2 linked regions of the Homo sapiens genome follow. The protein of the gene in region 1 purifies or fractionates together with the protein of each later gene. This does not show direct contact. Each region holds a gene or a part of one and is shown in the gene's direction. Other genes may lie near its edges.

Region 1 (3,500 bases):
GAAGATGTGGCAGCTCATGCGGTCTGGAAATTGTTTGGGAGAACACTTGGGGACCCCTTACCCTGGCGAGGTGCCTGTGAACGTTGCCGCCTGTCTGTGGGAGACGCTGAAGCAGCTTCGGATGACCACACTTGCTAACCAGTTCCCGAGCTGGGGGCCACTGTGATGTTCTGAGAGTTTTTATTGTATGCTTGTGTCTTGGAATGGGGTGCCTCAAATGAGCCTTCTCAGTGACCTGAGGACTTTATGTGTGAGGTGACCTCTGACCTTCAGATACCCCAGGTTTCTGGAAGATGCCTTTCTCCATCATCCTGGATCGGGGCTTTCCCAGCTTTGCCTACACCTGGGAGGCGCGAGTAGCCAGATGAAGTCTTTCTGGTCTTGCTGGTCAGAGCCAGAAGGGCCAGTGCCCGGTCCAGGAGCCTCTCGCAGGCCTTGGGCTGCCCATCCAGGCGTGGCCTTTCCTTGGCCCTTTGGACGACGACGCCGCGTTTTCCTCTTGGTCTCGGCCTCCCTGCCCACCATGAGAGTGGACATGAGAGTGACCATCTCCAAGGAGGCAGCTGGGTCTTTTCCACTCCCCATGGCAGGGAGCCAGCTGTCTTCACGCCCTCACCCTAGTGAAGTGGCTGAATTGCCAGGATTGATCACAGCTCTGTTCTGTGTCTGATCACAGGACATACACCGTCCTGCAGAGTCTGCAGGCGGGTGGGAGGAGCCATTGAACAGACCTGGCGTCCTGGGAGGGACACGGAATTCTTCCCTTGAGAGTCTCATGCTATCTTGAGCGGCACTCTGTCACTTCCAAGATGTGTAGACGTCGTGCTGCGTGTAGGACAAGGACTGGAGCTCACTAATACGGACCTTACTTTCCAGGAGCGTTGGATTTGAGCAGCTCTGAGATGTGTCCTCCTGCAGGGCTGCTGTGCCTGGTGCCCTTTCTCTGGGTCCCTTACCCTCTGCCTCCCTTCCTGTTGGGTCCTCTTCATTCCCATTTCTGCTTCCCCAGGGCCAGGAGGGTGCTGGGCACTCGGTGGCCACCTCAATGACAGTGTGCACATTTACCTGAAGGGGCGAAGGGTTACCTTTATATTTCAGGTAATCTCTGTGTTTTGGGGAAATGGAAAGATGGTGTTGGGTTAGGGTTGATCAATGATCAGCGTTTCCCTGGGCTACACAAGGAGTGAGTGTTGGGTTGGTGGCCACTTTAGAAACCACAGGAAGGTCTCTGTCGTGGAAAGTCGTATTAAAGGAGTCAAGTTTTACGCCTGTAATCCCAGCACTTTGGGAGGCCGAGGCAGGTGGATCACGAGGTCAGGAGTTTAAGACCAGCCTGGCCAATATGGTGAAACCCGGTCTCTACTAAAAATACAAAAATTAGCTGGGTGTGGTGGCGGGCGCCTGTAATCCCAGCTGCTTGGGAGGCTGAGGCAGGAGAATCGCTTGAACCTGGGAGGCAGAGATCGCGCCAGTGTCCTCCAGCCTGGGTGACAGAGCAAGACTCCATCTCAAAAAGAAAAAAAGAAGTCAAGTTTCAATTTTAACTTGTGTTAGTGTGTGATCCTGTCTTTGTGTGCTGTGGAACTTGGTGCTGGTGGGACACAGGCTGCTCACCCCATCCCTTGAGCTTTGCGTTTATTCCTGGGATTCTGCATGTGAATGGGAGCCTGTGCTGTATCTGGGAGATGCTGACTGGGTTGCAGGCACGTCCGAGGGTCAGGGTGGGGCCGAGTGCAGCCTCCTCCTCCAGTGGGCCTGTGTGTGGAGTGGTGGCATTCTGGGTGTCCCTGAGGCCTGGTCGTTTCCATCTTCTTCCTGAGCCCACATGGAGATGACGAGGGGTTTCCTGCTGGTCTCTTGCAGAACAGGGTTGAGTGGTGTCCTCACGTTGATCTAGCTTCTGGGTCTCCCATTCTGCATGTGAGCAGGTTGATGGGCTGTTGTCTCTTCCACGGTTAGCCTCCCTTAGGCTGGGGCTCCTTCACCCCTCTTTTCTTAGAGACATTACTGCCCAGAGTGAGAACCCCTCACGTGGGGTGGCCGTGTGGTTCCAAGACAGGGTCCTGTGGAGGCCCTGTTAGCTTCCCCACTGGAGGCCTCCCTCACAGCAGGCTCCTGTCCCGGCATCTGCACTCCAGCCAGGCAGAGTCCTGCTCCCGTGCACACCACACCCTGTCTGTCTGTGCTGTGGGCCCTTGGCGGGGTTCTGGGTGTCTGGAGCCCCTTGACCTTGTTCCTCCTACAAGGTGACCTCGTCAGGAAGCCCCAGGATGAGACTGTCCCTGGCTCCTCCAAAGGTCACTTCAGACATGTGCACCCTTTGGAGAGGTCCCTGCTGTTTCTCAGAACTGCTGGGGATGGAGGCTGAGCCCGAGAGTGCTTGCTCCTCGCGCTCCCTTCTTGCTATGGTCTCCGGAGATGCCTCCCAGGCCACGAGCCCTCCTGGCGTGGTTTTACTGGGACCTGGCTTTGCAACAAAAATAGTTGTTTTAACCTCCCTAACCACTCCCATCCCTCTTTTGTTTTTCTCTATAACGTGTAGGGTTTCTTAGCTCTCCTGTATTGGTCTCACTCCACTGGAAGGAAGGCTCAGGAACGCAGGCTGTGTCTTCTCCCGGGTGTGGCTGGGGCGGGGGCTCAGGGAATGGCTGTGATGGCCCAGTGTCCAGGAGGCTCCGGGCCCCACCCCCCGCCTTGCTGCATGACCTTCACAGTGTCACTTACCGGCCCTGACTTGCCTGCGGGCACCACGCACACGGCATGAAGGTGCCCTGGCCCGGGGCACGGACACAGCCAGAGCCACCGCGCTCCTGGCTGTCATCACGTCGTTGGCTTTGCGATCTAAACCTGCTTGTTGTTTTGGTTTTTCTTTCTTTCTGTTTTCTTTCATTCTTTTTTTTTTTTTTTTTTTTGAGACAGAATCTCACTCTGTCACCCAGGCTGGAGTGCAGGGATGTGATCTCAGCTTACTGCGGTCCCCGACTCCTGGGCCGAAGTAATCTCCCCTCACCCTCCCTCTTCCCAAGTAGCTGGGACCAGACATGCGCCACCACATCCAGTTAATTTTTTTTTTTTTTTGGTAGAAATAGGGTCTCACTATGTTTCCCGAGCTGGTCTCCAACTCCTGGGCTCAAGTGATCCTCCTGCCTCAGCCTCCCAAAGCTCTGGAATTACAGGTGTGAGCCACGGTACCTGCCCCCAAACACTCCTGACTCTTCTTATCCTAACCGGGGTCATCTTACTCTCCTCACCGAAATCTGATGTCACCTGTATGGAGGAAAGGGTGGGCCTCATGGAGGGGCAGGCCAGGGACAAGGGGACTCCTGGGCCCCAGCTGAGCCCAGCCCGTTTCCCCTCAAGGGCTGTCTCCAGGAGGACACGTTCTGTAAGTGTAGTGTTCAGCAGAGGGTGAGTTTCTGGGTCGCCGAATCCAGGCACCCTTAGGAATGGGGGCCTAAGAGGGCCTTCTGACGTGGGTTCTCTGCTGTGATTGTGGGCAG
Region 2 (3,500 bases), on another chromosome or scaffold:
AAGGAAACGTCATCCCTCTCCAGCTAAGGGAAACACAAAAATTAAAACAAAATTTGGGGGAGAGATTATAGTAACCAACATTAAATATCCTCAGCTATTCTTATTAAATTGTTCAAGGCCTGAGATTGAAGGAGGTTGCAGTTTGCTGAGCCTGCTGAAAGATAAATTAATTCCCAGGTTTTAATGGCTCCTGAAGCTCCAGACTATTTGTCCAGTATTATTAAGGAGCATCTTACCACCTCACTTTCATAGCAATGGAATACCTCACAAAAGGATGATGTACGTGTACTGAGATTATTTTAGTAAAGCATCTGATACAGCTTAGTATTGTCTAGTGGAAGAACTGCTAAATTATGTTCCTCTAGCTGCCTGGTAGCCATGAGCAAACTAGGAAAACTTCATCATAAATTGAAGTTAATAATATATTATTGTGATATTTTATGTCAGTATCATATATAACCCCACCTGATTGTTGTGAAACAGATGGGTATTAAGCACTTTGAAAATTTTAAATTATTGCACTAAGCAACATTTATTATTTATTTGTTAGCATTCTAGGCTACCTATGTCATTTCATCTACATATTGTACTGTTGAACCTCAAAAAGAAATCATCAATCTCCAGTCTAATGTGTGCTCAAGTTATGGATCTCTCCAACACTGCCATTCTTCAAGACATTTTAAGAAGGCTTTTTCATATACTGAGAACATTGCTGCAAGACAGTCTAGTCATCTCCATTCTAGACAAACAACATTGAAAACAACCAAGTGGTTAAGCTGCATCATCATTTGGCAAGTCATTAGCAGATTTAATACTAATGCTCACCTGCAACAACTCTTTGCTAATCACTTCTGACATTTTAATGCACAAACGACATAGTGAAATCAGGATTTCAAATAAGATATACACAAGATGGAATTTTAATTCTGTTTTTGTCTCCTACCTGGCATCTCTACTTCAACCTCGCTATTCATTCCTCTTCTCAGCTGTGGCTAAGACAGTGTCATCTGCAGTTTCCTAAAATAGTTGCGTATTATAGCATTGTACATATAGCTGGCATTTGAAACAGTCATTCTTCTTAATTATGGTTAACCTTATGCATAGATGACCACTTACATGGTCTAATTTGAGAAGCACTCGAAAGGCCTTCTGGTCCCTAAATTAGTAGCCTTCATGGTTTTCCATATAACTTGAAATTCTACATTCAGGAATTTCCCTCTTTCATCTTAGTCACTGTCTCCTTTAAATACAAGTACACCTTTGGGTAACATACTGTTATTATTACCTATTAAGAACTATGCATAAATTTATTGAAAGCTATTAGAAAGCCTTTAGAACTGCATTGTCCAGTGCAACAGCCACCATATATGGGTATTTAAATTCAGAGTTGAATTAGCGTTAATGGCAAGGTGTGGGGTTGAGCTCAATGTAAAAATAAAAAGTGAAAACTGAACACCACTGAAACCAAAGATAATGTCAACTAATATCTAGACAAGGATAGCAATGAATGAATTGGCTAGGATTTCCTTTACTTTTTCATAAAACATGATGTCTTCTTTAAACTAATCAGTAAACGCTTACGAATAAATGTCAGTGTTCAAATCTTTTGCAAGTGTATTTTAAACTTACGTATCTCCCATTTTATCTCAGTAATCAAGACTCACTGAATACTCTTCAATTATAGCTTCCTGTAATCAAAGTAGTAAGACTTGCCCAAATTAGCAAGTAATTATTCTTAAGAGGAGAGGTATAAAAGATGGTAACAGTGGCCACTATTTATTGACATTTACCATGCACTACACAGTTCTAAGAGGTTTACAGGTATATAACCATACAAGCCTGATGACTACCCCATGAGAAGGTACTACTATTATCCAGTTTGCAGTTAGGGAAACTGAGGCATACAAAGAGGTTAATCTGTTCAAACTGAATGAACAAAACCAAGCTTGAAACCAGGCAGTTTTATTCCAGAGGCCGTGGTGTTAAACAACAAACTATTGCCTCTGTTTAGAAATTGGCTAATTTTTCTTTCATACTGTAACAACTAGTCTTTTAACAGAACAAATTTGCATGTAAATGTGAGGATATTAATGGACAATGTCCATTAATCCTCGATATGCTGCTTGGCAAGGCAATGAGACAGACATGCAACATTTCATCTAGAGATTCACCTACCAATAAAGAAGTAGAGCAAATGAGAATGTACTGTTAATGCTGAGAGACTGAGGGACAAGAAGCTGAGTGAAGCTCAGGGGAGTTACAGAGATAATACAAAGACAGAAATGAAGTCAGGGAAATAATGCTATTGTATGTAGAGATGACTGGACAGGCAGATGTTACTACTGTGAGTTGGACCCACAGGTTTCTACTACATGTAACACCACAACAAAGGCCATTCATATTTGTCATTTATATAATATTGCCTACTTGAAATTCAAGCAGTAAAATAGAAGCTCTGAAGGTCTAAGACCGACTGACAGAAGGATCAGTAAAAATCGTTTATCTCTTTCCGTACCGATAGTGCTCCCGAAAACATGGTGAATGTTCCTAAAACTCACAAGACTTAAAGAAGTGTGGCTAGCACCAACCCCACAAAACGACACAGTACAAGAAGGGCAAAGATTCTCTGTATGCCCAGGGAAAGCAGCATTATGACAGGCAGCGCAGTGAATATGGTGGGCAGACTAAGCCAATTTTTCGGAAAAAAGCTAAAACTACAAAGAATATTGTGCTAAGGCTTGAGTGCACTGATCCCAACTGCAAATCTAAGAGAATGCTGCCATTAAAAGATGCAAGCATTTTGAACTGGGAAGAGATAAGAAGAGAAAGGTCCAAGTGATCCATTTCTAAGTGTCATCTTTTGTTTTATTATGAAGACAATAAAATCTTGAGTTTGTGTTAAAAATTATTTATCATATATCAGGAAGGTTTCAAGTCTTGTCTGATCCCATTTGCCATGTATTTCCTTTTCATACTAGAGTCAGGAAAAGTAATTTGATAGCTATGACTTGGAAAATAGGTGCTATAAAAAGTAACTGCCAGTTTTTTAGTTTACTGATCTGAGCCCAGGTAGAAAAACCATATCTGAGTACAATACTTAGACTAAAGTTATTTCAGGGTAGAAAGACCATACTTGGAAAAATTCTAAATATGATTAAAGTCTTTTTAAAAGTAGGTTTTTAAAAATTCAAAAACCAAACCAATTACTTCCATTTCTTACTTCCATTTTAAATTGACAAAAAACCTGATCCGTGATTAAAAAAGAATTTATTGCTAGAAAGATTGGAGAAGTCCAGTACTGTGGTATGTAGCTTTCTCTCCCAAATGTATCTATATTCTGTCTGATCTTCAAGGTCCGTTTCAAGCCCCACCTCTTGCAGGAAGCTTTTGTTGACTAGCCCACATATATGATAAGTGCCTTGCCCATAGTAGGTAATCAGTTAACATATCTTGATTGATTGTATTGTATTCCAATGGTTAAAGTAAAGGTGAAAGAAGAT

Evidence for each region.
Region 2: the proteins of PTDSS2 (region 1) and HTR2C purify together in Homo sapiens (co-immunoprecipitation; one large-scale study listed by IntAct). This does not show direct contact.

The regions. Positions count from the first base shown.
Region 1 is NC_000011.10:453,279-456,778, forward strand, and holds part of PTDSS2 (phosphatidylserine synthase 2), read left to right. Parts: intron 1-3,500. UniProt on the Homo sapiens protein: Catalyzes a base-exchange reaction in which the polar head group of phosphatidylethanolamine (PE) or phosphatidylcholine (PC) is replaced by L-serine. Catalyzes the conversion of phosphatatidylethanolamine and does not act on phosphatidylcholine.
Region 2 is NC_000023.11:114,587,086-114,590,585, forward strand, and holds part of HTR2C (5-hydroxytryptamine receptor 2C isoform a precursor), read left to right. Parts: intron 1-2,504; exon of another isoform or gene 2,505-2,900; intron 2,901-3,500. UniProt on the Homo sapiens protein: G-protein coupled receptor for 5-hydroxytryptamine (serotonin).